7 separate regions of the Homo sapiens genome follow, and regions 1, 2, 3, 4, 6 and 7 are each linked to region 5. The links come from fine-mapping of genetic effects on gene expression. A gene starts in region 5. Each other region holds a variant in brackets. All regions are shown on one strand. Distances are from middle to middle.

Region 1 (4,063 bases), 90 kb before region 5:
CGGGTGCGGGGCTCATGCCTGGAACCCCCACGCTTGGGAGGCCCAGGGGGGAGGGTCGCTTGAGACCAGCCTGAGCGATATGGTGAAAACTTGTCTCTACAAAAAATAAAGGAATGAGCCGGGCATGGTGGCACTGTATCTCTAAAAATTGATATTAAAAAGTCAAAATAATCAGGTGCAGCGGTAAGTCTCCACTGTGTCCCTTCCAGTAAGGCGTTCCAGAGGCTTCGCTGTGAAGGCGCGAACGTCCGCTCCATCGGCAATGTGCGCCTCACTTTCACTGTGGTCCGTGGCCAGTTCTCACAGCAGGAGGTGCCTCGGAGCTGGCTGCACCAGAGCTCTGATCTCACAAATGAACACCCCGTGCCTCACACACCACCAAGGCAGCAGCATCACGCCACAAGAGACACGTGTGCACCCGTGCGAGCGACAGCCTGAAACACACGTGTGCCTAGGGTGCTTTCCGTGTGTGTGGACACGCACGTGTGTGCATGCATGTGGGTGCTCAGGTTATTCACAGGCAGGACTGAGAGCCAGAATGAGCTGCCACCTTCCCACGCGACGTGGGTTGGTCTGAATCTGTGCCTCTAAAGTGTAATGAATGAGCCGCCTTCTGGGACCCCTGGAGAGCCTGAAAGTGTAGATTCCTGGCCTTCTCCAGACGGAGGAGAACAGAGGCTCTGGTGTGGGCTGGAATCTGCACCACCACAGGTCCCTGGGCACTTGTGTGGGCCCCAAAGTCTGGGAACGTCCACTCTAAACAGTTTCCCGTGCCTTAAACAGGCTTAGTACTTTGGGGCTACGCTTCCAGTGAAAATACGTATCAGAATATATTTGTACAATATACGTTTACCTAGTATGGATTTATATGTGTAAATTCGCATCTGCAACCATTATTATCTGCTTATACGTTCACCTCATTCCAGAAACATTCCCGAGGCGCGGCAAACGTGTGCCCATCCCATCCCCGGCAGGACAGGGCTTGTCAGGCGCTGGGCACCGAGCCATCTCCCATCCTGCGTCCCTTCATGGCACCACCATGTCAACCCTGCCAGTGGCCTCCGCACACTGCGGACCACGCCACCCACCACGGTGAGCACCCACGGCAGCACATGCACCTCTGTTGACCGATGCACGTGAACTCCTAGGGAGTCGCACACACATGTGAAGTCTGAGCCCATCACAGAGCACACACGAGAGCAGGAGTGAGGAAGGAAATGTTGGCAGACTCCTCACGTCTTCGTTCTGCACCCAGAGACACACACGCCCTCCTTAAGGATCTTGGTCCAGTCACTGAAGTGAGAAACTCTGGGTCCCCGCAGACCCGGTTCACCGCAGCGTCCGCAGCCACAGGGTCTGAGCACATTGTGCATGACCTGGGCTCCCGGGAGCGGCCTGGGCCTCCTACCCGGCCACCCTGCCTCACGCCAGGACAGCGCAGCCCAGCCCCGGTTCTCTCTTCCAAGGAAGATCCTTTTATATTTCCGTGTCTCAAAAAACTTCCGCAGGCTCCCATCGGAACAACCCTGGCCTGGCATCCAGCAGCCACATGCTTGGGCCTGATTCTCTGTCCAGCCTCAGTAAATTCGGGAACACTCCACTGCCAGCCTCTCACAGGTGCCATCTCAGTCGGTCCTGCGGTGACCCTGGAGGAGCAGGTACCACTCTGCACACCCCACAGACGAGCAGGCCGGGGCTGCAGGGAGAGGGAGCTTCCGTCCCTGCCTTCCTGCCAGCGTTCCTTCCTATGTTGGCGTCCCCACCCTGCGAGGTCCCAGGACGCATCTTCCCTCAGGAGCTCCTCTGCCTCGCGGGCTCATGCGAGCGAGACCTCTCAGCCTGACTGGTCCATTCCGTGACTAATCTCAGAGCCCGTGGGCCTGGGCCACCAGGCCCCTCCTTTGTCTGCAAACTCAGAGGGTCTGAGACACGCCCAGCTCAGCACCAGCTCCAGACCCTATGGGACAGCGCAAGGTCGGCCACATGATGGAGCACCACATGGCCACAGGACATGGTGGGAGGTGCGGAAGGTGGAAAGAGGCACAAAGACGCTTTCCAAGTGCCCAAAGGAGAGAGACGGAATCAGGACAGTTTGCCTCCAGTGCTGCTGACACCTGCCATGCACGTCAGCATCTTCATCTGATGTCCTCAGGGGAGCCGGCTGCACCTCACACCATCCACTCTGCAAAGCAAAGCAGCCCTGGGAACAGCCCTGGAAAAAGCCCCTTCCCAGCTCCGGGACCCCCGCTCACAGCCAGGGCCGGCCAGTTCCACAGCTACCCGGACGTAGATACAGCACACAGGCACTCATGGGTTCCTAAGATCAGCCTGGTGACCTCATCGGCTCAGCTCTTGCCACACAGACATACACAGGCCATCTGGAGCTGCACGGGACGCTGAAACCA[C/T]CACTGAGGGCAGGCGAGAGCCAAATCAAGAACCAAGGGGGCCGGCACAGGAAACAGGCCCCAGCACATGTGGGAGAAGGAACACCAGGGAGGCTCAGAGAGAAATCCAGTGACACACCACGTGGACTCCCTCCAATGGCCTCTAATGGCGCAGACCACGAGGGTGGACGACAGCCAGGACACCTCCGCCTGGCCCACCTCACTCGCTGAGCCCCCCGCCCCGCCTCACTCGCTGAGCCCCCCCGCCCCGCCTCACTCGCTGAGCCCCCCCGCCCCGCCTCACTCTCTGAGCCCCCCCGCCCCGCCTCACTCGCTGAGCTCCCCCCCGCCTCACTCGCTGAGCCCCCCCGCCCCGCCTCACTCGCTGAGCCCCCCCCGCCTCACTCGCTGAGCCCCCCGCCCCGCCTCACTCGCTGAGCTCCCCCCCCCGCCTCACTCGCTGAGCTCCCCCCCCGCCTCACTCGCTGAGCCCCCCCGCCCCGCCTCACTCGCTGAGCCCCCCGCCCCGCCTCACTCGCTGAGCCCCCCCGCCCCGCCTCACTCGCTGAGCCCCCCCCGCCTCACTCGCTGAGCCCCCCGCCCCGCCTCACTCGCTGAGCTCCCCCCCCCGCCTCACTCGCTGAGCTCCCCCCCCCGCCTCACTCGCTGAGCCCCCCCGCCCCGCCTCACTCGCTGAGCCCCCCGCCCCGCCTCACTCGCTGAGCTCCCCCCCCGCCTCACTCGCTGAGCCCCCCCCGCCCCGCCTCACTCGCTGAGCCCCCCCCGCCCCCCCCGCCCCGCCTCACTCGCTGAGCCCCCCCGCCCCCCCCCCGCCCCGCCTCACTCGCTGAGCTCCCCCCCCGCCTCACTCGCTGAGCCCCCCGCCCCGCCTCACTCGCTGAGCTCCCCCGCCGCCTCACTCGCTGAGCCCCCCGCCCTCCCACCGGCAGCCCTGGGCGGGCGCCTTTGACTTCAAGGGTCCGGAGTGGGGGCTCTGTCCTCTCCTCTGACGACCGCTGCGTGGCTCTTGCATAACCTCCCCTTTCCCCCACAACACGAACCTCAGTTTTGAGTCTCACAGGAATAAAGCCACATGAAAGCAAAAACTTCTTAAAACTGAGTTGGGCAATATATTTCAGTGAAAAGGGATAAATCTTCAGACTCCAAGACGCCTTCAGCTGGACAGGAGGGTCAGTTTTGAAGTCTGAAGTTTTAAATACTTGCAATGTCACTGTGTCTTCACATTTTTATGAGCTGAAACTGGGACGGGAGAAGTCACATATTTACGTGGATAAAAATCTTGTAACTGGCACATGATTACAAGTCTTTAATTTTAGAAGTACTTCACTTAATTTTTTAATAGGTAACACAGAAACAGAACAAAATCCACAACATTCAAAAGGATTTAAAATCCCTTCGAGAAGGGATCCCTGCCCCTGCCACCTCATTCCCGACGTGGGGTCACTTCTGTCACCAGCCCCCAACCTTTCCTTCTAGAAGCCAGCCACATTCAACAATGGGGACCGTGGACATTTGAAGCATGCGTGTTCGTATCTCCAGATGCTGACCTGAGAGAATGCCTGATCTAAAAGCCACGGCGTCTACTTAAATTTCTCTGATGTGCCTAATCCACAGGGTTGTCCCCATCTATTTGAGTCACACCGAAAAGTTTACCGAAC
Region 2 (4,063 bases), 120 kb before region 5:
CTCTCTGTCTCTCTCCCTGTCTCTCTCCCTATCTCTGTCTCTCTCTTTTTCTCTCTTTCTCTGTCTCTCTCTCTCCGTCTCTCTCTCCCTGTCTCTATCTCTCTGTCTCTCTCTCTCTCTCTCCGTCTCGATCTCTCTCTCCATCTCTCTCCGTCTGTCTCTGTCTCTCTCCATCTCTCTCTCTCCGTCTCTATCTCTCTCTCCGTCTGTCTCTGCCTCTCTCTCCGTCTGTCTCTGCCTCTCTCTCCGTCTCTCCCTGTCTCTCTCTCTCTCTCCTTGTCTCTCTCTGTCTCTCTCCTTCTGTCTCTGCCTCTCTCTCCATCTCTCCCTGTTTCTCTCCATCTCTCATCACCACCACACAGCGCAGCCCCTTTGGTGTCTCATTCCACAGTGGTCTGTGCTCATCTGGGTGAGAGGATGTGTTTTATCTCTTCACTTCCACCTTGTTCAAAGTGGGTCTGGGGCTGGGATGTGCTTGGGAACTGCCTCCCCCAGAACCCTGGGCCCCTCGGCCGGCGCTGTCTGACTGTCTGATGTCCTGAGAATCAGGGGTGGGGACAGCGTTTGTCTCCTGGGGACACAGAAGCGTGGACGGCTCTGCAGGACCATGGCCACCCCGGGGTGTCTGCAGCTGTCCCGAGGCCACAGGACACGCAAGGAAGAGAGGAGCCGGCAGCAAGGCCCTCGCTGAGCCTCTCAGCGCCCCATACATAGCCTGAGTCCTGGCGGGGTCTTGAGTATCGCAGGTGATGGGTGGGTGCAGGCACCCAGCTCCTCCCTGAGGGTCGGCAAGGTTGAGAAGTGGGGTTTGGGTGCTGGATGCCCAGGTCCCTAGGGGATCTCCGGCTTGGGGGTTTGAAGAAAGGGCAGCTCCCCCAGGGGTCCTGTCTCTTCGAAGACACGGGCAGGCAGAGCCCCCAACACCACTCTGGGCCCTGCCAGGGTCGGCCACAAAAAGAAACCACTGGGAAAACCCAGGGGTCCACATCAGGAAAATTCACATTCCACCCCGACAAAGCCTGGCCACCCTTCCCGGCCCCCCCAGAGACCACTGTGGTCGTGAACTCCAGGGCTGGGCCCCTCTAGAGACCACTGCGGTGGTGATCTCCAGGGCTGGGGTCCCCTGGAGACTACTGTGGAGGTGAACTCCAGGGCTGGGGTCCCCCAGAGACCACTGCGGTTGTGAACTAGGGAACACTGGCCCGGGCACAAACCCCGGAAAAATCCAGCATCGGAACTGGGGTTCACGACCCCGCAGTTCTAGTCTAGCCAGGGCTGCGGGGGGTTCTGCCTGGGTGGGAGTCACCCTGCACAGCGCTATGGCAGTTTCTCAGCAACATGAGGGTGTTCAGGGCACTCACCCTGGAAGCGCTTGGCCGCCGCCTCCCGGAGGGAGAAGAAGATGTCACACATGACGGTCGGGCAGCTCACCCCAGACTCAGTGATGGCGTGGAAGACGCGGTCCACATACTGCCGTAGGTTCTCCTGCAACGGGACACGGCACTGGGACCCACTCCCGAGGCTGCCCACAGGTGCGTGTAGCACCAGGGCACGCCCAGGGAGGGGCGC[G/A]TGGGGAGGGGCTGAGGGCGGGCGCAGGGCAGCTGCGGCAGTGAGACACGTGTGAACAGCCACTCCCTGGAAATCTGTGCTGGGAGCTGTGGCAATTCACGCGTGAAAATCACTACACAGGCACCACGTCGGCTCCCCGGCTCGGCCCCGACCTCGTTTACTGAGTGGGGAATGGACGTTCACTAGAATGTGCCTGCCCAAGGCAAAGAGCTCTGTCATTTACATACAGAAATGACGAAACAGCACGCTCTGCAAGAAGTATCATGTGAAGTGACTAAAATGTTGGAGCAAGTTCAACATCAGGGAGTTTTGCTGTTTTAAAACGCAGTACACAGCTCTGGGGACAGCCTGGGGAGGCAGGGAGGCCATCCTGTCCTAGGAAAAGGGAGGGGCAGGAGCCATTGCCCAAGGGAAGGAGGAGCCGGGGCGGAGGCAGAGCTGGTCAGGATTGTCCAGGGGAGGCAGAGCAGGGTGTGCAGGGCAGACCCTCCGGGGGGGCAGAGCTGGGGCATGCAGACCGGATCACTCCAGGGGAGGAAGAGCTGGCCGGGACCCCCCAGGGGACGCAGAGCCCGGCACACAGGCCAGGCCAAAGGTGGTGGCTGAGGCCTCCCAGTAGTGCAGCCAGCGTACTGCAGCCGGGTGAGGCGGGTATCCCCACGCCTGGTCCTGCTCCCACCCCAACCGGGGTCACGGGGTGAGTCAGAGCTTCCAGGCAGCCATCGGCTGAAAAACCCCAAGCAGGTGACTGGCTTTGGTTGGTTCATGAACAAAACCTACCATGTTGTTTTCAAGGTTTTCTCCGTCTTTCAACTTCACAGGGTCGATTTCACAGGGTTTGTGGCTCTGGCATATCTGGGGAGAGGTTTAAGACAGGGCTCTGTGAGTGGGTTCTGGGGGCACAGGCAGGGAGGGTGGAAGGGGTCTCAGGCCTGGCTGAGATGTAGACCCTGAGCCTCATCCAGAAAATGCCACGACAGCTCCCCGAACCCGGCCACTGGCACGGAGGGGCACGGTGAGGCCGGACTGCAGGGCCACCGTGGGGTGGTGTCGTCCCGAGCCTCAGCTGCAAGGGGGCAACCCTGGGCCTGTGTCACTGGCTGCGGAGGGACAAGTGAGAGGTCAGGCGCAAACACTAGGCACGGGGCCCAGTCCATGGCCGCGATCAGACGAGCCGGGCTCTCTCAGGGAGCGATGTGCGCCCGCGATCAGACGAATCGGGCTTTCTCAGGAGTGATGTGCACCAGCCCACACGGACTAGGCCTCACAGGGCTTTAATAATATTTTTACTTCAAAATGCTGCCATGATTTTGCCCACAGAGCAAACCAGAATGCTATGTTCAATTTTCTCACATTTGCAAAGAACCTGTTTACAAACCCGCTCATAAACGGGGGGCACAGCCTGGCGGGCATCAGAGGGTCAGGTGAGGAGTGGGTGTGCGGGCATCAGAGGGTCGGGTGAGGACTGGGCGTGCAGCTCAAACATGCCACGCAGCCAGGGCCCAAACACAGGGGACTGCAGGACATGTGGAGAAAGAAGGTCTCCCTGGGAAGAGCCAGGCTTTTCTTGCATGTTCTCCTTTGTGGAGTGGTGGATTTTCTTATGTATAGTTTTAATTTGGGAGAATTTGGAAGGTTCTGGAGTACACAGGGAACATCCTCTTGATAAAAGTGAATGAATCAGCATCCCCGTGGCGAGGCCAGAGGGGCCGACATTCAAGCCCAGCTCGTGGTCTGGCTGGATCCCAGTGCAGTGCCCTCTGTTGGGGGAAATCCTCCCCACGCCTCGTGAGGCTGAGGACTCTCGGCCCCGTGCTCACCTCCTCGATGGCGGGCTTCAGGGTGACATGCAGGTAATGCATCCCCGCCAGCTTCATGGTCTCGTCGATGCACTTGGACGCCAGTGAGTTTCCTCGGAAGATGGTGTTGGGGTCCCTGGGAAATGGCGATGGGGACAGCGTTTGTCTCCTGGGGACGCGGAAGTGCAGACGGAGCAGAGCCTGGCCCCGAGCACCTGCCTGTGGGCTGTGAGGTCAGTGCACGCCCATCAGTCGGCTTCCTGACATTTTACAAGGAGCACAACCAGGCCAGGTGCTTGGAGGCCCTGGCCATGGAACCGTCCTGTGTCAACACTGCCAGAGGGAACCGTTCGGCTACCTGCGTGGCCACCAGCTCAGGAGGAGCCTGGCTGGCCTTCGCCCTCCCGCCCTCTCCCCTCTGCGGCCTCTGCCTGTGCAGAGAGTTGGGCACCAGACCCTGGCAGCATCCAAGGGCCAGCAGAGAAGCAAACCCTCCTGTCAGCTACAGTGGCTGCAGGTGCAGCCAGATGTTTCTAGAACAGGGCGTCCGGAAACAGCACTAGGCAGGTCCTGAGGGAAGCTGTGCTCCATTTTTGTGGGCTCCCAAAGTGCCCCAGGGAGGGGACCTGAGCTGTCCTCGAGCCCCAGGAGCCGTTTCCCCTCCCCACTCACTCACTCTACCCGGGATTTCAAAG
Region 3 (4,063 bases), 21 kb after region 5:
AAAACACTCATTGTTTCTGAACTATCTTTAAAAACAACTTTTAAGAAATAAGAAAAGCTATTTCCAGAGCACTCACCAGTGCCACGTGCACACGGATCATCTAATTCTAGGGGGGCAACTGCACGGTTTGCCCCCGACCGTCCAGTGTTAGTGTCCAAGGAAGCCCCTCAGTTCCGAGGTGAACCAACAGAACAGATCACCCTGTGAGGTATGAAGTGTTGTCCTCTGCATTCGACAGATGAGGAGGTTACAGCTGCGAGACTGTAGGCGGTTGCCCGGGCGCTCTTCCAAGTAGGTAGCAGGGCCGAGTGAATGAGCCTAGGCACCGCCCGGTATTGCTGCAACAGCCAGGCGGCGCTTTGACTTCTGGGTCAGTGTCACTGCCTACCTGAATCACTCACTTCCTGTAAAATACTTGATTCCAAATTACTTTGGTCTGTATTGAAAAATAAAATTCAAGTTTACCTTTAAAGACAAAGATTTGCCATATTTAAGGATATTTTAGAGAACGTGCTACTGACTCTGAAGAAGAGGCATAAAACCGCCTTGAGGAACGGCATCGTCTGTGCTGAAGCAGGCAGCGCCCAGCTGACGACTGTCAATGCAGCCCTAGCAAACACGGCCACGCTGCCCTCCATCCAGGGTCCTGTCCAGTGCTGTGCTAAGCACTTCACGTGGTGACAGCTAGCTGCACACCAGGCACGGTCAGGTGCTTAGCGTTTATTAAGTCGTTCAATTCTTCTGTAACCCCATGAAATGGATGCTATTGCTAGAGCTGTTTTCTACAGAGAATTTAAGGATTTTGCCTAAGGAGATGTCACCAGCAAGTAGCAGACCATGGTTTGAACCTGTCCCCCAGTCCCAAGTCTACACATAACTGTTGTCCCACGGGTGATAGGTGTGACAGTCCTAGGCTCCAGCTCTTTCCCCGGCGCCACAGTGCCTGCTGTGCTTGGAGACACCACCCTCACCTGACTGGGAGAGCTCCACTCAAGGACCCGCACAAAAATAATCCCAGCTTCCGTGGTTTCCTCACACCATTCCCCGCTCACAGTTTACCTCCCTAGGAACCCAACACTGTTTTCCTGTAGCTCATCACTTCACAAATGTATTGCCTTTTGTTAAAATCGTGAATAAGCCTCTGGTCTGACTGCCTCTGCGGGGTTTTTGTCTCATTTCGTGAAGCCGCCACATGCATATGAAGTAACGCTTTTTCTCCTGTTAATCTACTTTTGCCAGTTCAATTTGCAGGACTCCAGTCACTAAAAAACATAAGTGAGTGAAGGAAAAGTTTTTTTCCTCACCACCTGTTTGTTGGAAAGCAAGTAATGGCCCACCTGGTATTCTTTTGGTCAAGACACAACGGGGAAATGGGGCTCCGGTCAGGCCCCTCAGGTTGGGCCTAATTGGAGCAGAATCGGAGGGGCCTGGGCTTCTTGCTGCCAGTGGCAAATGTCCAGTCAGGAAGTCACACGGGCAGCAGCAATGCCGGCAAGGGACGCTTGTAGCAGGAACGGGGCAGCCTCCCTTACTCAAACAAGACGCGGACTGCCTGAGGCCGGCAGCTCAGAGAACAAAAGGCAAGTGTGAGGGGGACGGGGTCAGTACTCAGAAAGCTCCATGTGCCTTCCTGCTGAAAGCAACATTGAAAGCACAACATGTGCATTTGGTTAAAAACGCTGAGGGCTTGTGCTGGGAGGCGGCAGTGGTGGCCTCAACCATCTCCCCGTCCGCCCGCATGGCAACCACGACGACTATTTCCTCTGGTCAGGCATTTCCAACCTCCTCCTGTTATTACAACACTCTCTACTCACTAATTTTAGATAGAGTCTGTGCCAGACTTCCGACTACGATAGTGAGAATTCAGCCAACTTGCTCTGAAGAAATCATACAGGGCCTAAACTTTCTGAGTCCGTATGAGTCTAAAAATATCTTTATTATTCCCACACACTTAATTTAGGGTCCAGGATAAAAGCAGATTTTGCCGAGAGCCTAGAGGCATCACTCCACCATCTCCACCACTACATCCCTCCATCATCTCCATCACTACATCACTCCACCATCTCCATCACTGCATCACTCCACCATCTCCATCATCTCCATCTCTCCATCACTCCATCACTCCATCATCTCCCTCATCTCCATCACTCCATACTCCATCATCACCATCTCCATCATTCCATCATCTCCATCATCTCCATCATTCCATCACACCATCATCTCCATCATCTCCATAGTCTCCATCACTCCATCACTCCATACTCCATCATCTCCATCACTCCATCATCTCCATCATCTCCATAGTCTCCATCACTCCATCACTCCAT[G/A]CTCCATCATCTCCATCACTGCATCATCTCCTCATTCCATCATCTCCATCATCTCCATCACTCCATCATCTCCATGCCTGTTGACATTTTCTCAGGACCTGCCTGCACGCCTCGACCTCTGCCTTGGAAGGTCTGGGCTGCTGTGTTTTCTGCTTGTTTCTTGCACACAACGTAAAGTTGGGTTTCACTTTGCGAATGATCCCACGAGTCTTTTTGTTGAAGAGGTGAGTCGAATTTATTTACTTATGTAGACTGAGAGGAAGGATGCAGTGGCCCTTGGTTTTGTCATATTTCATGTTATAGTTTCTAACCAATCCTCTTTTAAAAATTTCACTAAGCATTCTGTGTTCCACTGTGGGTGTGTCTTGATTTGGAAGGTTGATGTTTTTGTTCCAGGAGATACGTTTGCTCAGTTTTCCTTCCCCTTGTGGCCACACTTCTCTGCTGCTCTCATCGTTTCATTTGTGCCTTTCCCGTTTTTTGTCTGTTGGTTTGTCTGTGCCATGGTGTGATCCTAGCTCACTGTCACCTCCAACTCCCAAGCTCAAGCACCTCCCGCCTAGGCCTTCAAAGTGCTAGGATTGCAAGCGCCGCCCCACGCTCAGCCCCTTTCCCTTGTTAAAAAGTGCCTTACTCTCAAGAGGCTGAGGCAGGAGAATCGCTTGAACCCGGGAGGTGAAAGTTGCAGTGAGCCGAGCCGAGATCGCGCCATTGCATTCCAGCCTGGGTGACAGAGCAAGACTCTGTCTCAAAAAAAAAAAGCCTTACTCTGTCTGTGTCTAGACCCTGTGGGGCTTCTCTGGTTAAGGGGGCCTGTCCTCCTTAGATGAGCTGTCCCAGGAGGCTGCTACTTCCTGCAGCTGCTGAGGCTCACCCTCCTCTTTCCACCACTGAGGCCCAAGGCTCCAGTTGCTCTGAGGAGTGTGGAGGCCCGTGAGGTGTGGGGGTGCGGAGTGGCCGTGGAAGGTGTGTAGGGGATTGCAGTTGGGGTTGGGTGCTGGATGTGCAGGTAGAGTATAAGGGTAGGGGGTTAAGGTGTGGGGCATGGGGGAGATTGGGGAGGTTGGGAACATGGGGCAAAGTGGTGGGGGATGGGGGATGCAGGGGTGGGGATGGGGGATGCAGGGGTGGGGTGTGGAGTTATGGTGAGTGGGGGGCTGTAGTGGGGCGTTGGGGGTGGAGGGGGCTGTGAGGGTGTGGGGTGTGGGTCATGAGACATGGGACAGTGGGGGCTAACGGGGTGGGTGGGGTGTGGGGTGTGGGATGCAGAGTGTGGGAGCTCAGGGAGTTAGAAGGTCGAGTTAGAGGGTGTAGGTGTGGGGGCATGATGGTGGGGCCTGGGGGAGGGGGAGGGTGCGCAGGTGCAAGGTGTGAGGGTGGAAGGCTGGGAGACCGGTAGTGTGTGCGACTGTGGGGTGTGGAAGTGGGGGACTCAGGGGAGGAGTGGGGTGTGGAGGTGTGGGGCACGGGGTGGGGGGTTAGGGAAGGGTGGAATGTAGGGGGAGTTTGATGTAAGGGTGGGGGCTATGAGGAGGGGTGGGGTGTGAGGGTGAGGGTGGGGGCTTTGGGCAGGGTAGAGGTGTGGGGCATGGGGTGGAAGGCTGTGGGAGCAGTGGGGTATGGGGTGCAGGGCATGAGGGTGAGGGGCTAAGGGGAAAGTGGAGGTGTGGGGCATGGGGATGGAAGATTAGGGCCAGTGGTGGGGTGTAGGGGTGTAGGGTGTTACCTGGAGGGGG
Region 4 (4,063 bases), 140 kb before region 5:
ATGGGGGGCTGGCTGACGGAGGACCCAGCTGATGGGGGGCCCGGCTGACGGGGGCCCGGCTGACGGGGGCCCGGCTGACGGGGGGCCCGGCTGACGGGGGGTCCGGCTGATGGGGGTCCGGCTGACGGGGGGCCCGGCTGACGGGGGGCCCGGCTGACGGGGGGCCCGGCTGATGGGGAGGCCCGGCTGATGGGGAGGCCCGGCTGATGGGGGACCCGGCTGATGGGGGGCCCGGCTAATGGGGGGGCCCGGCTAATGGGGGGCCCGGCTGATGGGGGACCCGGCTGATGGGGAGGCCCGGCTGATGGGGAGGCCCGGCTGATGGGGGACCCGGCTGATGGGGGGGCCCGGCTGATGGGGGGGCCCGGCTGATGGGGGGCCCGGCTGATGGGGGGCCCGGCTGATGGGGACCCGGCTGATGGGGGGCCGGGAAGACAACGGGCTGCTGCGTCATGTGGAATCAAGGTGGGTGTCCTGGGCCAGACGAAGCTTTCAGGGAGGGGCTTGCTCCCAGCCTCCTCCTAGAGAAGCAGGATGGCCACGGCCTGGGGAGTCCCCCTTCACCCTGACCTCCCGCTCCCCCGGGGCAGGGCCTCAGGAAGACCCTCGAAGGCCTGTGGCACCCTGGAGTCTGCGCAGAGCCTTCCAGAGGCTGGGCCCCAGATGCTCCCTCGAGGGAGGACCCCTCGGGTGGGAGGCTCCTGGGAGGAGGCGAGGGCAGCCCTGTTTATGTGCAGCTTACAGGCAGGCATGCACTGTCTGCTGGTCCCTCCCTACTCAGCCCCTTGGCCACATTTCCTGCACAGTGCACGAGCTGGGCACCGAGGCACAGACCTACCCAGTGCAGGGCGAGCAGCCCGGAGCCGAGTCGGATGGCGCCCTACAGCACAGCCAGTGGCCGCTCAGGTAGGCGGACGGGTGGTAGACGGTGAGGCGCTTCTGGTTGCACTGGCTCACTTTGGTGAGAATGTCGATCCAGTCCTTGGCCTCCACGCAGTTGTTGGCCTGGATGTACAGCGCACGCTCTGGCTGGATGACCTGGAACATCTGAGGACACAGGTGGGCTCAGGACAGCGCACATGAGGTCTCGTGGCTGAGCACGTGCAAGAGTCCACCAGGCACCTGGCCGTCCTCGCCGGAGTCGTAAGAGGGGACGCTGAGGGTGCACAGGCCCAAAAGTCCTGGAGCTCTAAGCCCCAGAAGAGGCCAAGGCCAGGGGGTGCATGGAGCTCTCTGCCACCCTAAAACCTGACAGCTGGGGCCGTGGGGAATGGAGGTGAGAACTGGTGCAGCTGGAGATGTGGCCAGGTGGCCAGGAACAGCTTGGCCAAGGCCCTTTATGTCCTGGAGCCTTGGAGGTCTCCATTCAAGACAAAAGAGGGGCCCTGTGGCCTCCCCACAAGGCCCTCCTGCAGCTGACTGCAGGCATCCCATCCACGTGGTGCTCGTGCTGTGTCAGCCCAGGTGGCCCGGCCTGCTCAGCTCCTTCCCCAACTGACCAGCCCAGGATTCTTCCTCCTCCTCCCAGCTGGGGTTAGGGGGCTGCTTCCTCTTGAAGCGTCTCGGGGCAGCAACAACCTTTACCATTTATTACTCATTCAACAAACATGACTGAGCACCAGCACTCTCCTATGTCCCGGAGACAAAGCCTGGCATAGAGTTTCTACTGAACCTG[C/T]AGCCACCAAGAAAGACTAAACGAGGGCAGGTGTCAGCAGAAGCTGGAAGTGAGCAGTCCTGGTGCTGTAGTCGGCGTTGACTCAAAGTTAGTTAAGCAGGGGGTGGGGGCAAAGGGTGTCAAAGGCAGAAGAAATGGGAGGCACAAAGGTCCTGGGGCAGGTGGGACAGGGGTCCTGTGATTGGAGGGACAGGTCTCCCGGGGCAGGAGTGACAGAAGCCTTAGGATTAGAGGGACGGGGGTGCTGGGGCAGGGGGGACAGATATCCTAGGATTGGAGGTCAGAAGCTCCCAGAAGGAGCCGGCTCTGTTGCACACAGAAGACAGGTTTTCTGAGTAGGAGACTGACTGGAGGTTGGGAGGGCTCTCATGTGGGACTTGCCCTTAAGTCAGGAGTCAGGGGGACAGTGGCCTTCTCTAGGGGACGGGCCTTCTGCACTCATCTGGGGAGGATTTGGGCTCCAGGTTTCTGGTGAACAGCTGAGGTCTTATTTACAGAGGCCAGGAGCCTCCCGCCTTGCACCCGGCACATGTGTATAGGTCTCGGACTGGACGCCCCCGTGCATGGCTGTGATCCCCCATGGAGGGCGTCCTGGCCATCATCCCAGGCTCGGCCCTGCCACCAGGAGCAGCCTTCAGAAAGGTCTCCCCAGCTGGTGAGAGCCTGGCCTGGCAGTGGCCTCAGGGGAATCGGGCTCTGAGGAAGTCAGTGGGAATGAACAGCTGGGAACAGGCGGCTGAAACTAGGGAATTATTGGGAATCTATGTGAAGGGCTGGAGGTGCTTCCAGGACATGTCCACACTGCTTCCTTCGAGGGACGGTCTCAGGGCCAGGTTCCGGCCATCCCCCTCAGTCAGCAGGCATTGAGCCCACACCCTCCTCTTCCCATCTCCCCCTCTTCCCAACCCTTCTCTTCCCAGCCCTCCTCTTCCCAGCCCTCCTCTTCCCATGCCCTCCTCTTCAAATTACTCTCCAAACTTATGCCTTTTGCAGGATCTGTCTGGACTGCCTGTGAATAACATGCTAGTAAAATTCTGCCAATGGTAAGGAACATGCGTCAACTTTGGCACGAGGCCCAGGGACTGTGCCTTCCCTGCAACTGTTCTATGACCCTCATGCTGCAGTCGGGGCACAGAAGGCTTGTCCCAGCCAGCATGTGTCAGGGTACGGGGTCAGCCTCAGGATGGCACGGACGGCGGGGTCACTGGCTGAAGGGGCACTGAGTCACCAGGGAGAACGTGGCCAGCGGCCGACTCTGGGAGGCCACCACACAATGGTGACGCCACGGACACCTCTAGGGGATTCCCGCCAGAAATGCATCATCAGAACCTGCCACGTCGGCACATCCGACAAACCCACAGGGAGGGATGTCCAGAAAACCGAAGGCCTGCACGCCTCAAAGATGCCAAGGCCACCACACACAAAGAAAGGCTGGGAGTGTCCAGTGGGCCAGACGGAGGGGGCAGCAGAATGCAGCGCAGACTGGATCCAGAGGGGAAGGAACCACAGCCGGAAGAACGGGACTGGACAGCGGCAAACTCGAATGTGGTCGCGCCGGCGACGTGCGATGGTGGCTGCTGTGGTTTTGGGGACTGCACGGTGGGAAACACACTTGGAAGTGTTGATACATTCAGAAAAGCACGGGCGGGACCGTGAAGGGAGAAGGAACAAGTGTGACTGGGGAACGAGGCGACATGTGGGTCCGGGTCAAGCGTGACCGGGGAACGAGGCCACACGTGGGCCCGGGTCAAGCGTGACCGGGGAACGAGGCCACACACGGGTCTGGGTCAAGGGTGTGTGGAAAGTACTTGTTCTACTCGTGCAACTTCTATAAATTCAAAATTATATCAAAATAAAAAAGCTTCCAAAAGGAATTCCAGACGGTCCCAAGCCTGCTTCTGGGATGTCTTTGACAGAGGGCCCCTTGACATTGGGGACCCTGCGGGGGACGCCACCTGAAGCAGCTCAGGCCCCACCTTCCGGCAGGTTCCACCCCACCCCGGTGACCCCGGGCACAGAGAGTGTGGCTGCTTTGATGCGAGATTCCGACACAAACTCACCAGCACCTGGTGAACAACCCGAGTAACACGAAGACTCTGAGAAGCCTGGAGTGCAGTGGGTGGGGAAGGGTGAGCCCAGGGCCAGGTACGGGAAGAGAGCAGAGAAAACCTGGCCAGGCCTCAACCCGAAAGAGAGGCTTGGGGGCCCCACACTCACGTTTTTCATTTTGAAAGACTCCTCCTCCAGCTTCTCCACTGCCAGGATGTTCTCGATGGGAATGCTGTAGAGAGGCTGGTCCCCTGCAGCAGAGATGGACTGTCAGTGGGTGCGGGCCCCGCTGTCCCGGCTGGGGTCCGGGTGGGGCTGAGGGGTCTCTGCCGGGGGGTC
Region 5 (4,063 bases):
CCTCCAGCCCTCCTGCCCCCGTGACTGAGGAAGCCCAGTGCTTCTCACACTCCTCAGACTCGCTGGCTGAGCCAAGCAGCCTTGGCTGAAGGAAAGAGCAGCAAACTGACCCCCACGGGCCGCGACCTTTCCCCACCCAGGCAAGGCGACCTCAGGCACTTCAGGGAGCGCCAGCTCTGGCTTTCTTGTATGAAAGTGACAGCGGATTTAAACCACATTAACAAAAGAAATCCCTCCTCTCTGGACTACTCAAAGCGGAAGTGCTGCCACATCCTAGCTGCAGCGCTTCTGGGCCAAATATCAAGACAGTGTCTCAGCGATGATCCGCAAACCAAAATAAAGCCGACAGGAAACAGCCCGCTGGTTTAGGGGAGCTGGAATGCCTCCGGCAGCATCAAATGTCATCAACAACTGACACTCAGCCCGTTCCCGGAGGCCTCTTCACACGGGAAGAGGCCGGCTGCGAAGTGCGGCTCAGTGGGGGAGAAGGACCGTGGGGACCGCGACACTGCAGGCCCTGGAAGCCTCTCCAGCCTGAACCGCGCTGTGGTCCAGCACACTCATGGCATGAATATGGAACAGTCACTCCAGGAAACGGTCTTGCTCTGGGGGAGGGGGAGGACTTCCACATCACTCTCCCAAGATAAAACAACCAGGGAAAAGCAGATCCCTCCAGATAAACCAGAAGTCCAGACACAGCCTCCTCTCCGGAAACGCCTCCGGGAGCCCACTTCAGAAGCTGCTGAAGCCCAGAGAAAAACCGCAGCCTCGCAGGCCCTGGTCGCCACCAGCTCGCCCGCCACTTCTCAGTGGAAAGGGACGTGGTGCCGATGGGTCCGGGGTCTCCCCGCCCCGCGGGAGCCCTCAGCCAGAACGCCCCACCAGCACACACGCACACATGCACACACACAAACGCGCGCACACACACGCGCCCACACACAAATACACACGCGCGCACACATGCATCCACACACAAATACGCACCCACACATGCACCCACAAACGCACGCGCACACACACCGCCCACACATGGACACACAAACACAAGCACACACAAACACGCGCGCACGCAGGCACAGACGCGCGCGCACAGCAGCAGCAGCGCGCCGGGGCCTCACGCCCCTGGGGAGAAGCGTGAAGGAGCCTCCACATTCCCCGGAAAGGAAGTTTCTGGGCGCAGCGGAGAAAGGGAGATGCCGAGACCCCGACGTCAGTGGATTTGACACCTGAAGTGCAGGCGCCCAGACAGCCTCAGGCGCGCGCACTCCTGCAAACACGCGGGGCACACGCTCGGGCGCACACGCGGACAGACGTCCCTCGGCGCAGGGACCCCACCTCCTCCGCCGCTACCAGGGACCGGGGCCGCTCCGGGCGCAGAGGAGGCGCAGGGAGCCGCGTTACCCCGGAGCCGACTCGACCCAGCCCGAGGCCCGGGGAGGCGGGGAGGTGGGGAGGGGCCGCGGAGCCGGACCAGCCGTTCTCCGGGGAGCGCGCCGCGCCTGGAGGGCGTCTCCGCCGGGGTCCCCAGCAAGGATCTGCGGAGGGGAGGCGGGCGCGGGAGAGGACAGGGTCGGGCCGGGGGGTCGGACGCGTGGCTGCCGGCGGACACTCACCGATCTTGATCTTCACGCTCTGGAAGACCCGGAGCCCCTCGTCCTCCACCGCCATGCTGCGCGTCCGCGCCCGCCGAGCCTCGCCCCAAGCGCGCGCCGAGCCCGGGCAGCTCAGGCCGAGCAGGAGGAGCGGCGGCGCCGGAGCCCCGAGCGCGGCCGAGGGTCCGCCCGCCTGCAAGACCGCCAGTTGGCCGAGGGCGAGGGCGGGGACCGGGAGGCTCCGCCCGCGGCCCGGCCCCTGCTCCCAACTGGCCCGGGCCCTGCAGGGGCGGGGTTGGCAGGGACGGCGCTGGCGGGTGGCGGAGACCCGGGGGGCGCAGGGATCGGCTTCCCCCGAGGCCTCGGCCCCCGCCCCCGCCCCGCGGATTGGCCGCTGAGCGGAAGGGACCCCAGCGGGCTGCCTGGCGGAAGAGACGAAGGAAGGTCGCCGGCGCGGCCCGGGCCCGCTGAGCGAGGCTGAGCGATTGACTCGCGGACGAACTTTGCCAAGAGAAGTTCACGTACAACGATCTGGCAGGGGAGGAATCCCGCGCCCAGCCCCAGCTCCTGAGATGCGATCCGAAGGCACCTGCTGCAGACGCACGAGGGGGGCGGGGACACATACACGCACACACAGCCCCCCACCCCAGACCTCCGGCATGGGCAGGTCCCCCCCCCAAGTCCCCCTGCAGACCCCAGCATGGGCAGGTCTCCCCCCCCCCAGTCCCCCTGCAGACCCCGGCATGGGCAGGTCTCCCCCCCCCAGTCCCCCTGCAGACCCCGGCATGGGCAGGTCTCCCCCCCCAGTCCCCCTGCAGACCCCGGCATGGGCAGGTCCCCCCCAGTCCCCCTGCAGACCCCGGCATGGGCAGGTCCCCCCCCAGTCCCCCTGCAGACCCCGGCACGGGCAGGTCCCCCCCCAGTCCCCCTGCAGACCCCGGCACCGGCAGGTCTCCCCCACCCAGTCCCCCTGCAGACCCCAGCATGAGCAGGTCCCCCCCCAGTCCCCCTGCAGACCCCAGCATGAGCAGGTCCCCCCCCCAAGTCCCCCTGCAGACCCCAGCATGGGCAGGTCCCCCCCCAGTCCCCTGCAGACCCCGGCATGGGCAGGTCCCCCCCCAGTCCCCCTGCAGACCCCGGCATGGGCAGGTCCCCCCCCCAAGTCCCCCTGCAGACCCCGGCATGGGCAGGTCCCCCCCCAGTTCCCCTGCAGACCCCGGCATGGGCAGGTCCCCCCCCAGTCCCCCTGCAGACCCCGGCATGAGCAGGTCCCCCCCCAGTCCCCCTGCAGACCCCGGCATGAGCAGGTCCCCCCCCCAAGTCCCCCTGCAGACCCCGGCATGGGCAGGTCCCCCCCCAAGTCCCCTTGCAGACCCCAGCATGGGCAGGTCCCCCCCCAAGTCCCCCTGCAGACCCCGGCATGGGCAGGTCCCCCCCCAGTCCCCCTGCAGACCCCAGCATGGGCAGGTACCACCCTTACCTCCCTTTCTTCTGTCTCGAGGTCTCCTCCTCCCTGACCTCCTCTCTGAGGAGTATGTTTGTGTGTGTGTATGAACTGTAGGTGTGTATATGAACTGAGACTACACTCCCTCCTCTATGTTGCAAAACTTCATTGCACCCAGTGCCACACACACACCCTACACATATATACACACATACATATACCACACATACACTACATATACATATACATACACATAGACACCACACACAGACACCACACACATACTACACACGTGTACACACATACATATACACACATATACACACACCCTACATACACACACCACATATACACATGAACACATATGTTCATATACACACAACACAGACAGCACACACATATACTACCCATACACATGCACAGACATACACACTAAACATACATACACACACCTACGTGAACATACACAAACACACACACACTGCATGGAGAGGAACAGGAGCTTCATGAAGATAGAGGCCTATTTTTTTCCACTGCTTACCTTCACTTCCTAAAAAGCAGTTCCATGCGTTGAAAGAATGAATGGCCTTTCTTCCCCTGACTGCTGGGAGCCTGCAGCCACAGGGGCCTCTCTCATCCTCAGCCCTTGCAAGCCTGGTGCTCACTGGGGCAGAACAGGAGGTTAAGGCGGCACCCCTGGTTCCAACCCAGAGCCTCTGCGTCTAGCGCTGGCCCTGGGTGGCGTCTGCAGTGGGTGCTGTGGACGCCATCCACACCCCTGCTTTACGACGGAGACTATGCTTCCGTTTGGAGCCACTGGAAGCAAGCCGGCTCCTGTGTTTCTCCGAGGACCAGTGGAGTCCTCTGTGGCAGCCCAGCCACAAAGCTGCTTCTCTGCCATCCCTCCACCCTCACAGGCCTGCTGATAAACTCAACGCGGATCTCGCTTTGGTGTTTGTTTCCAGGCGACAGCTGGGGTCAGGAGTGAATCTCCAGACTGCAGCAGTGGCAGCCAGGACGGGAGCCC
Region 6 (4,063 bases), 29 kb after region 5:
AATTGCTTTTGGTGATTTCATCATGAAATATTTGCCCGTGACTGTGTCCTGAATGGTATTGCTGAGATTTTCTTCTAGGGTTTTTATAGTTTGGAGTTTTACATTTAAGTCTTTAATCCATCTTGAATTGATTTTAATATAAGGTGTAAGAAAGGGGTCCAGTTTCAATTTTCTGGATGTGGCTAGCCAGTTTTCCTGGCACCATTTATTAGACAGGAAATCCTTTCCCCATTGCATGTTTTAGTCAAGTTTGTCAAAGATCAGATGGCTGAAGATGTGTGGTCTTAGTTCTGAGTTCTTTATTCTGTTCCATTGGTCTATGTGTCTGTTTTTGTGCCAGTGCCATGCTGTTTTGGTTACTGCAGCCTTGTCTGAGGTCAGGTAACTGAAGCATCCAGCTTCGTTCTTTTTCCTTAGGATTGTCTTGGCTATATCGGCTCTTTTTTGGTCCCATATGAATTTTAAAGTAGTTTTTTCTAATTCTGTGAAGAACGTCAATGGTAGTTTAAAGGGAATTGCATTGAATCTATAAATTACTGTAGGCAATATGGCCATTTTCACAACATTGATTCTTCCTGTTCATGACCATGCAGTGTGTTTCCATTTGTTTGTGTCCTCTCTGATTTCCTTGAACAGTGGTTTGTAGTTCTCCTTGAAGAGGTCATTCACTTCCCTTGTTAGCTGTATTCCTAGGTATTTTATTGTCTTCGCAGCAATTGTGAATGGAAATTCATTCATGATTTGGCTCTCTGCTTGTCTATTATTGGTGTATAGGAATGCTTGCAGTTTCTGCACATTGATTTTGTATCCTGAGACTTTGATGAAGTTGCTTATCAGCTTAAGGAGATTTGGGGCTGAGATGATGGGGTTTTCTAGATATAGGATCATATCATCTGCAGAGACAGTCTGACTTGCTCTCTTCCTATTTGAATAACCTTTATTTCTTTCTCTTGCCTGATTGCCCTGGGCAGAACTTCCAATACTGTGTTGAATAGGAGTGGTGCGAGAGGGCATCCTTGTCTTGTGCCAGTTTTCAAGGGAACGATTCCAGCTTTTGCCCATTCAGTATGTTATTGGCTGTGGGTTTGTCATAAATGGCTTTTATTCTTTTGAGGTATGTTCCATCAATACCTAGCTTATTGAGAGTTTTTAACATGAAAGGATGTTGAATTTTACCAAAGGCCTTTTGGTAGCAGGTCATCTTTACAAATGTTGTATCTACTCCTGACTCATTTTCAAAGCAGGACTCACCGTGACCCCCCCTCATCCCGCAATTGTTCCACTGCCTCGTCATTCGTCCCCAGCTTGTGAGAACGCTCACGTTGGCCCTCCGTGCCCCTCCTGATTGTCACCCACTGGGTGAATCAGTTTCCTGAGCAAAGGTTCGCCTCCAATGAGGTCAACGCACATGTGGCAGGGACCCAGTATGGTTTGTTCGGAAACCCGTTTCATGCGGAGCCAGCAGAAGCCACGTTAAACGCACGCGTTCTTCCATCCCTCTGCTCACCGGAAGCGAGCTTCCCAAGGCGGGCACGGCGCCGCCCCCCCAGTCACGCGGCTTCCGCTTCCGGTCGTGCCCTCTCGCCTCTAACTAGAGAACGCCTCGCGGTGTGAGTGAAACTCTGGCGGCCTCGCTAACACGCCAAACCTCTGT[C/T]CTCAGAATACGAAGGGCAAAGTGTGTCCCACTCACGCGCAGGCTTCCCCGCGGCGGCCACAGCGGCGGGGGGCGGGGGTCGTGCTCACCGTCGTCCAGTTCACCGGCATGTTTTCAATCAGCCATCACGAGCGAAGTGCTGCTTCGTGTCCACCAGGGAAAGCTTCAGGGAGCACGTTATTGGCACTCAAGATGCCAGCCATGGGCTGCCTGGAACGACGGTTTTTATCATTTATGTGAGTCCTGGGACATTTTCTTCCAACAGACCTAAGTATGTATGACACCAGCATATTACACGAAGCCGAGAGGGGGCTGCTCTGGGTGAGCGTGGAGGAACACACGACCCCTCCCACGCTCACGTGCCCACAACCTCCAGGACAGCCCAGCCTGGGTGAACTGCAACTTCTTTAGCTCAAGGGACATCTGCTTTTCCCCAGAGGGGCCCCTGGTGCAGAAGCAAGTTGGGGAGTGTGCAGAGCCGGGAAGAAGCAAAGCGAGGGTATGGGTGGGAGGGAGTGGGAATCCTTGGATTTGGCAGAGAACAAGTAAATTTTCGGAAATCATAGTCAGCGTGGTCTCCACAAAGATGAGAGGGCAGGAACTCGATTGGAAGGGGGCCAGTGAAGCTGCTGTCAGGAAGCTCTCACAGGGCAGTAAACAGCTCCTGGCACCCGGAATAGGAGGAGGAAGTCGAGAACCCACAGCCGCCCTGCCCAGCCTGGCTCCTCCTCACCCGCCCAGGCTGCTGTGCTCCTCACGGGAGGAAAACCCGCCTGCGTCCAGCTACCTCCAGGAAAGCAACAACTGCCCGTCCTCGACTAAAGGCCAAACCTTTTAACATTTTTGTCCTTGACCACGGCATCAGCTGTGCTGTCTACAGAAGGAACTATATTATTCCCACTTAAATAGCTCGGTGTTTCGTCAAGAGAGTGCAAACACGAGGGCTTCGGTAGAGGGAGGAGACACTGGCTCAGGAACCAGAGCTCACGGTTCCTGCTGTCTCTGCCCCTTGACCTCGGTGTGAGGCGGCTGCGACTGGGTCTCTGCTGTGTAAATATTGTGCCTGAGGGCCATTTTGACAATGACCGTTTCTACTTTAAAAACAAAGCAGACCAAGGGAGTCTCTGGTCCAGGGATAAGGTGCCTGCAGTGCTTTTCCGACACCTAAATCTCTGCTTTGTCCTGAGAGAAACAAGCGTCACGAACTTAGCTCACTGTTGGTGAAGTGACGGCCGCCAGGGAAGAGTGCAGGGATCTCAGGAGAGACGCTCGGGTCCTTTTTCAAAACCAGTGTGATGCACGATATGTGACTACTCGCCAGAGTCTCGGGAGAGTGTGACGAGCGATGGGTGGCTACTCACCAGAGCGACTGGATTTCTGTCTGAGGCTACTGCATATGCTGGGTCTTAGCAAGCAACGGCCATGCGGCCATCAAGGCACAACAGAGAGCTCTTCTTCTAGGAAGTTCGAGGCATTAAAAATTTCCTCCACTGGGAGCATGAGCATAAATATCTTCCATATTGTTCCCAGTTTTTCTGAAGGCGAAAGAAAATAAAGAAGGCCAGTCAATTAGAAATCTGAATTTTTCTATTAAAGAAGGCAGGGGTTAGCCGGGCACAGTGGCTCACGCCTGTAATCCCAGCACTTTGGAAGGCCAAGGTGGGTGGATCACTTGAGGTCAGGAGTTTGAGACTATCCTGGCTAACATGGTGAAACCCTGTCTCTACTAAAAATACAAAAATTAGCTGGGCGTGATGGCAGGCGCCTGTAATCCCAGCTACTCGGGAGGCTGAGGCAGGAGAACTGCTTGAACCCGGGAGGCAGAGGTTGCAGTGAGTGGAGATCGCGCCACTGCACTCCAGCCTGGGTGACAGAGTGAGACCCCATCTCAAAATAAATAAATAAATAAAAATAAAGAAGGCGGGGGTTCCTGTCTCTATTTTTCCAGGAGAACAAATATTACCAATGTACAAAACTAGGGGGAGACAGGAGTGACTTTACCTCACTGCCAACGCCTCCAACACAGTCTCCATTCACAGGTCAAGACAGAAAAGGAGTTTCCTGGAAGACTGCAGAGTCTGCCACAGACCCAGGGCAGCTGGACTTCCTGCAGATCTAAAGCCAGGGCTGGAAAAGCCACCCAGAGCCCATCAGGCCTCCTGGACCTGCTTCTTGGTCCCTCTTCTCAAAGTCCTCTCCCCTGAAGGCTATTTCCCCTGCCTCTCCCTCATCTCATCTCCCACAGTCTCCTAGTGTCTCTGCCAGCCACATGCCGAGAGAACCAGCTGCGCCCCAACACTTCCAGTCTCTAGAGAGATCATTTCCGTGATCCATTCAGCTGGGCCCAGGCCGAGGGCAGGGGCAGGAGTGGTCATGTGTTAAGAACAGGGCAGACTGGGTGGGTTGTGG
Region 7 (4,063 bases), 26 kb before region 5:
GGCCAAGCCGTCACCTCAGAAGGGTGGGTGGGGCTCTCCCCAGGAGGAGGGCAGGTCCGGGACTGGGAGGACGACCCCCACGCAAGCCCCCACCCTGCCCTTGGGCTCCAGCCTCATCCCCAGCAGCCGCCAGCCCTCTGAGATGCCAGGGTGCCATGGACCCTGCACTGAGGGGTGCTCACTGGGCAGCCGTGTGACCAGCAAGCAGAGGCAGGTTCACAGCAGCAGTGGAGCTCTCCAGAGGCAACTCCACCAAGGGGTGCCGCAGAGCTCTGTACCCCCAAATTTATGAGGAGCCCGGCTTTGGGAGGGGACACCTAGGGGAAAAGGGCTCAGGAGGCCTCAGCCAAGGAGGAGCAGCACTGGCAGCCCCCCTCCTCCAGCACGGGGACAGGGACCACCGGCATCGAAGCTCCTCACCTGCCTCCTGCCTGACAAGGCCACAGGCACATCCGGGGCCAGCACTGACCAGACGCTCCCTCCGCCTCGCTTCACCCAGCCTGAGGCTGGACGGGAGGCACTGGCGTCTGCAGCACATCCACAGCATTCCAGAAACGACAGAAACCAGGCCAGGCTCTGAGCAGCCCGTCCGTTGTCCTGACACCTGACCATGACGGCATATTTACGGTGTCTTCTCAATCTTTGAAAAATATTTTTAAGAGAACATGAGAACAAATCAATATTCCAGTGGCCTAAGGAAGTCAGCTAGCTGTGAAACTATTACGGTAAGCTACACAGTGGGGGAATCAGCGTGGGGGAAAGGAAGCGGGCATTCCACAGTGCAAGACTCTGACACACAGAGCGTCTTGCACCCGCCCTGAGCTGAGCAGTCCTGACCCTAAAGAGCTGCCATTCCTCTGGGGCCACGGCAGGAAATCGCAGGCACTGAGTGGGAGGAAGAGGATGACCGGGTGTTGGGATGGGTGCACATCGCAGAGCGGCACACGGCAGCCTCCGGATGGGCGCATGGCAGAGCGGCACACGGCCTCTGCTGTCTTTTCCGATGAACTTTCAATAATACATAGAAACATATGGGTTTAATGTTTCCTGTGTGTGTTTACAGATGTGTGTTTAATATTGAATATGTGTGCGCGCACCGTATCTCCACGGAGCAAAATAAGAATGGAGAGAAACTAACGCAAAGAAAGACGCTAACGTGCCAGGCTTTCAGTGGGGACAACTTCTCATTCTTGAAAACTTAAAATTAGCTTTTCCAAAACATCTATAAAGCAACAGAAATGCTTACAAATTTAACAGCATTTGAGATTATTGTAAATAAAAATGATAGGTCTAATTTTTCTTTTGCCAACATTTCCTTCGTTTATATTGACAGTCAACTCATTACGTGTAACAATAATGGCAATTTTTCCTAATGAAGTTTAAACATAAAATATAAAACAATGTAATTCGGAGCTTTGTAAATAAATGCCCATTTTACTTAGCGTAGGTGTAGAAATTCACACCCAAGTCCCACTTAGAACACGCTTCCCGCTCCGGAGCATAAGCCCCTGGCGTGGGGAGGGGTTGGGCTCTGTCTGAACTGATCACCACCACTGCTTTATTAATTGTTTTTGGCTTAACACCTGAACCAGCTGGGTGCAAACTATGACACACATTACAAAACCACCTGTCCATCCTCCAGGCACATGGAAGGCACACGGCCCACAGAAACCAAACTATATGCTGCGTCCCATTTAGAAAGCTCTGCGTATGTTTAAAATTAAAAGTCTTATAAGGAAACTATTTTTCTGTATTTTAAAATGTTCTTAATTACAAAGAAATAGATATTCATTCTAGCCAGTTAAGTCTCCAGGTAGAAAAAGTTAACTCTTTTCCCTCCCTCAGCCAGGCCCCCCCAGAGCCACATCTGGCAAGGACGGCTTGGTGTGCACGCCCACACCTCCTCTCTCGTGCACGGCCACATCTGGATCAGATGTGCAGGCATTTCAACATGGCAGTCTCCATCCAGCCACGGTCTGCGGACAGCGTTCAGGCTCCAGCCTTGACCCTGGGCACCTTGACCCTCACGGGGTACGTGGCCTGTGTGTCTGCCTTTGTGTCCTGGTCCTCGCAGGGGACAGGCCTGTGTGTCCCACGTTCGTGTCCTGGTCTTCGCAGGGGATGTGGCCTGTGTGTCCCTCCTTCGTATCCTGACCCTTGCGGGGGACGGGCCTGTGTGTCCCTCCTTCGTGTCCTGACCCTCGCGGGGGACGGGCCTGTGTGTCCTGCCTTCGTGCACCCTGACACCATGGGTCTGATTTTCCCACGCTGGAGGTCTGCTTCTGAACAGCTGCATCTCCTCCTGCAGGGGAAGCTGTCTGTTCACCCAGGTGCCTGTCCTGTCTGAGGGCTGGGCTCTTCCTACCCAAGGGTTGGGGGCTGGCCTGTCCCTCATGACCCAGGCAGGCGGCC[A/G]GGGCTCCCCGGAACTCCAGGCTGCTGCGGGTGTCTGCTCTGCCCTGGGTGAGGCTCTAGAAGATTCCTGTGGAAGCGACTGTGTCTAGGGGAGCCCATTCCCCAGTTTAAAGGACGTCCCCCCCCATGGCTATCCACATGCCCAGTCCTCTCAGGAAGTTCCAGGCTGCCAGGATCAGAGGAAGCAGAAGCCGCTGTCCTTCAGCAGGACCCTGCAAAAGCAGGATGAATCAGCGGGGCCATTCAGAACAAGGTTCAAATTACTGCTGCACTTTTCAGAATGGAGCCAGGCTCAGTGTTTCAGAACCAGAGGCTGACGCGGATCAGCTCGCACCCAGCCTGGGACCTGAGCCAGCCCCTGAGTGCCACTCTCCACGGCCGCCTCAGAGGGTAAGCCTCTCCAAGCCTGCTTCCTCGCCGGCATGGTGGGGGTGGCCCTGCCATCCCCTAGGGGCTCTGCGGGATCCCCTGAACACTACGAAAAACCTGAGCCCCACTCCTGGCCACTGGGTAAGGACCTCTCCGAGCCTTTCTCCTTCCCATTCACTCCCACCCCCAGGCAGGAGCGACCAGTGCTGAGAAGTCCTATCATCCCACAACCCATCATCCTCCGTCATCCCCTGTCCGTCACCCCGCAGCTGTCATCCCCCATCACCCCGTGTCTGTCACCCCGCGTCTGTCACCCCATGTCTGTCACCCTGCATCCGTCACCCCGTGTCTGTCATCCCCGTCCGTCACCCCATGTCTGTCACCCTGAAACCATCACCCCATCTGTCACCCCACATCCGTCATCCCGTGTCCATCACCCCGCGTCCATCACCCCCATCCGTCACCCCATGTCCGTCACCCCATCCATCACCCCGCGTCCATCATCCCCCATCCATCACCCCCCGTCCGTCATCCTCCGTCCATCACCCCACGTCCATGATCCCCCGTCCGTCACCCCGCATCCATCACCCCATGTCCATCACCCCACGTCCATCACCCCATGTCCATTATCCCCTGTCTGTCACCCCGCGTCCGCCATCCACATCCCATCACCAGGTGCTGTTTTCTTGGTGCTAGAGCAAGGTGGGATTCACACCTTGTGTGCACAGCTTCTGAGTCACTGGGCGGCTGGGCACAGCCTAACTCAGGAGCAGGGACCCACGGAGGGTGTGGCGACGACACAGCCCTCAGCTTGCTCTCCAGGAGTTCTTCTGATACCTCGAGGACACTCTGGACCCTGTGTCTGGGTCCCAGCCCTTCCGTAACAACGTGGCTCCTCTGAATCAGTCACAAGGAAGATCCAACTTAACACAGAGAGTTTTTCCCAAACAGCAGAACTGGCAGCAACACAGGCATCCTGCAGTTCAGTCCACTGCATGCAGCGTGCAGGTGTCGGAGGGCGAGGCTGCCGTGGGCTCCCGGCGGACGGTGGCAGGGCAGGCCCAGGTCTCTATCACAGCAAGGCCTCTCCACTCGGCCCCCTCCACCTGTTTACAACCTCAAGCTGGGTCAAAACCCCAGGGGTACTCAGAGGGAGTGTTTCTCCCCAACTGGATTCCTTAAGCCAGAGGGCAGGCGGCAGGGTCCTGGCCTGACAAACACACACGGGCCCCCGAACACGACCGGCTCCGTGACCGTCACAGGACGTTCAGGTGGCTTCATT

Direction of the effects. Alleles are on the strand shown, and positions count from the first base shown. SD is a standard deviation of normalised expression in the study named. Not every link is listed here.
For the expression in fibroblasts of the gene that starts at base 1,802 in region 5, T is the high allele of the variant in region 1 and C is the other (moderate effect, 0.68 SD a copy in GTEx).

Evidence for each region.
Region 1: its variant is fine-mapped to the expression of RASA3 in fibroblasts (GTEx, PIP above 0.99).
Region 2: its variant is fine-mapped to the expression of RASA3 in whole blood (TOPMed, PIP above 0.99).
Region 3: its variant is fine-mapped to the expression of RASA3 in whole blood (TOPMed, PIP above 0.99).
Region 4: its variant is fine-mapped to the expression of RASA3 in whole blood (INTERVAL, PIP above 0.99).
Region 6: its variant is fine-mapped to the expression of RASA3 in whole blood (TOPMed, PIP above 0.99).
Region 7: its variant is fine-mapped to the expression of RASA3 in whole blood (TOPMed, PIP above 0.99).

Annotation. Positions count from the first base shown.
Region 1 is chr13:114,041,222-114,045,284 of GRCh38, forward strand. The region is part of intron 3 of RASA3 (RAS p21 protein activator 3); the gene reads right to left. Among named protein-coding and RNA genes, the nearest start is that of RASA3-IT1, 67 kb to the right of the region's middle. RefSeq lists enhancers at 2,116-2,255, 2,516-2,615. The variant C/T (reference allele first, on the strand shown) is at 2,406.
Region 2 is chr13:114,013,848-114,017,910 of GRCh38, forward strand. It overlaps RASA3 (RAS p21 protein activator 3), which reads right to left. Exons shown (of 24, transcript NM_007368.4): 12 at 3,390-3,504; 13 at 2,350-2,424; 14 at 1,362-1,485. Among named protein-coding and RNA genes, the nearest start is that of C13orf46, 42 kb to the left of the region's middle. The variant G/A (reference allele first, on the strand shown) is at 1,570.
Region 3 is chr13:114,151,492-114,155,554 of GRCh38, forward strand. No RefSeq gene overlaps it. Among named protein-coding and RNA genes, the nearest start is that of RASA3, 21 kb to the left of the region's middle. RefSeq lists an enhancer at 1-307. The variant G/A (reference allele first, on the strand shown) is at 2,328.
Region 4 is chr13:113,995,693-113,999,755 of GRCh38, forward strand. It overlaps RASA3 (RAS p21 protein activator 3), which reads right to left. Exons shown (of 24, transcript NM_007368.4): 20 at 3,893-3,975; 21 at 839-1,047. Among named protein-coding and RNA genes, the nearest start is that of C13orf46, 24 kb to the left of the region's middle. The variant C/T (reference allele first, on the strand shown) is at 1,676.
Region 5 is chr13:114,130,822-114,134,884 of GRCh38, forward strand. It overlaps RASA3 (RAS p21 protein activator 3), which reads right to left and starts at 1,802. Exons shown (of 24, transcript NM_007368.4): 1 at 1,614-1,802. The coding sequence starts at 1,668. LOC107987192 (a long non-coding RNA gene) reads right to left here and starts at 182. Exons shown (of 2, transcript XR_001750050.2): 1 at 1-182. RefSeq lists enhancers at 228-727, 898-1,525, 3,814-3,993, 3,823-4,063 and silencers at 1,318-1,977, 2,008-2,107.
Region 6 is chr13:114,159,778-114,163,840 of GRCh38, forward strand. No RefSeq gene overlaps it. Among named protein-coding and RNA genes, the nearest start is that of CFAP97D2, 17 kb to the right of the region's middle. RefSeq lists an enhancer at 1,975-2,875. The variant C/T (reference allele first, on the strand shown) is at 1,655.
Region 7 is chr13:114,105,145-114,109,207 of GRCh38, forward strand. The region is part of intron 1 of RASA3 (RAS p21 protein activator 3); the gene reads right to left. RASA3-IT1 (RASA3 intronic transcript 1) reads right to left here. Exons shown (of 2, transcript NR_046544.1): 1 at 3,497-4,063; 2 at 1,170-2,624. Among named protein-coding and RNA genes, the nearest start is that of RASA3-IT1, 2.6 kb to the right of the region's middle. The variant A/G (reference allele first, on the strand shown) is at 2,413.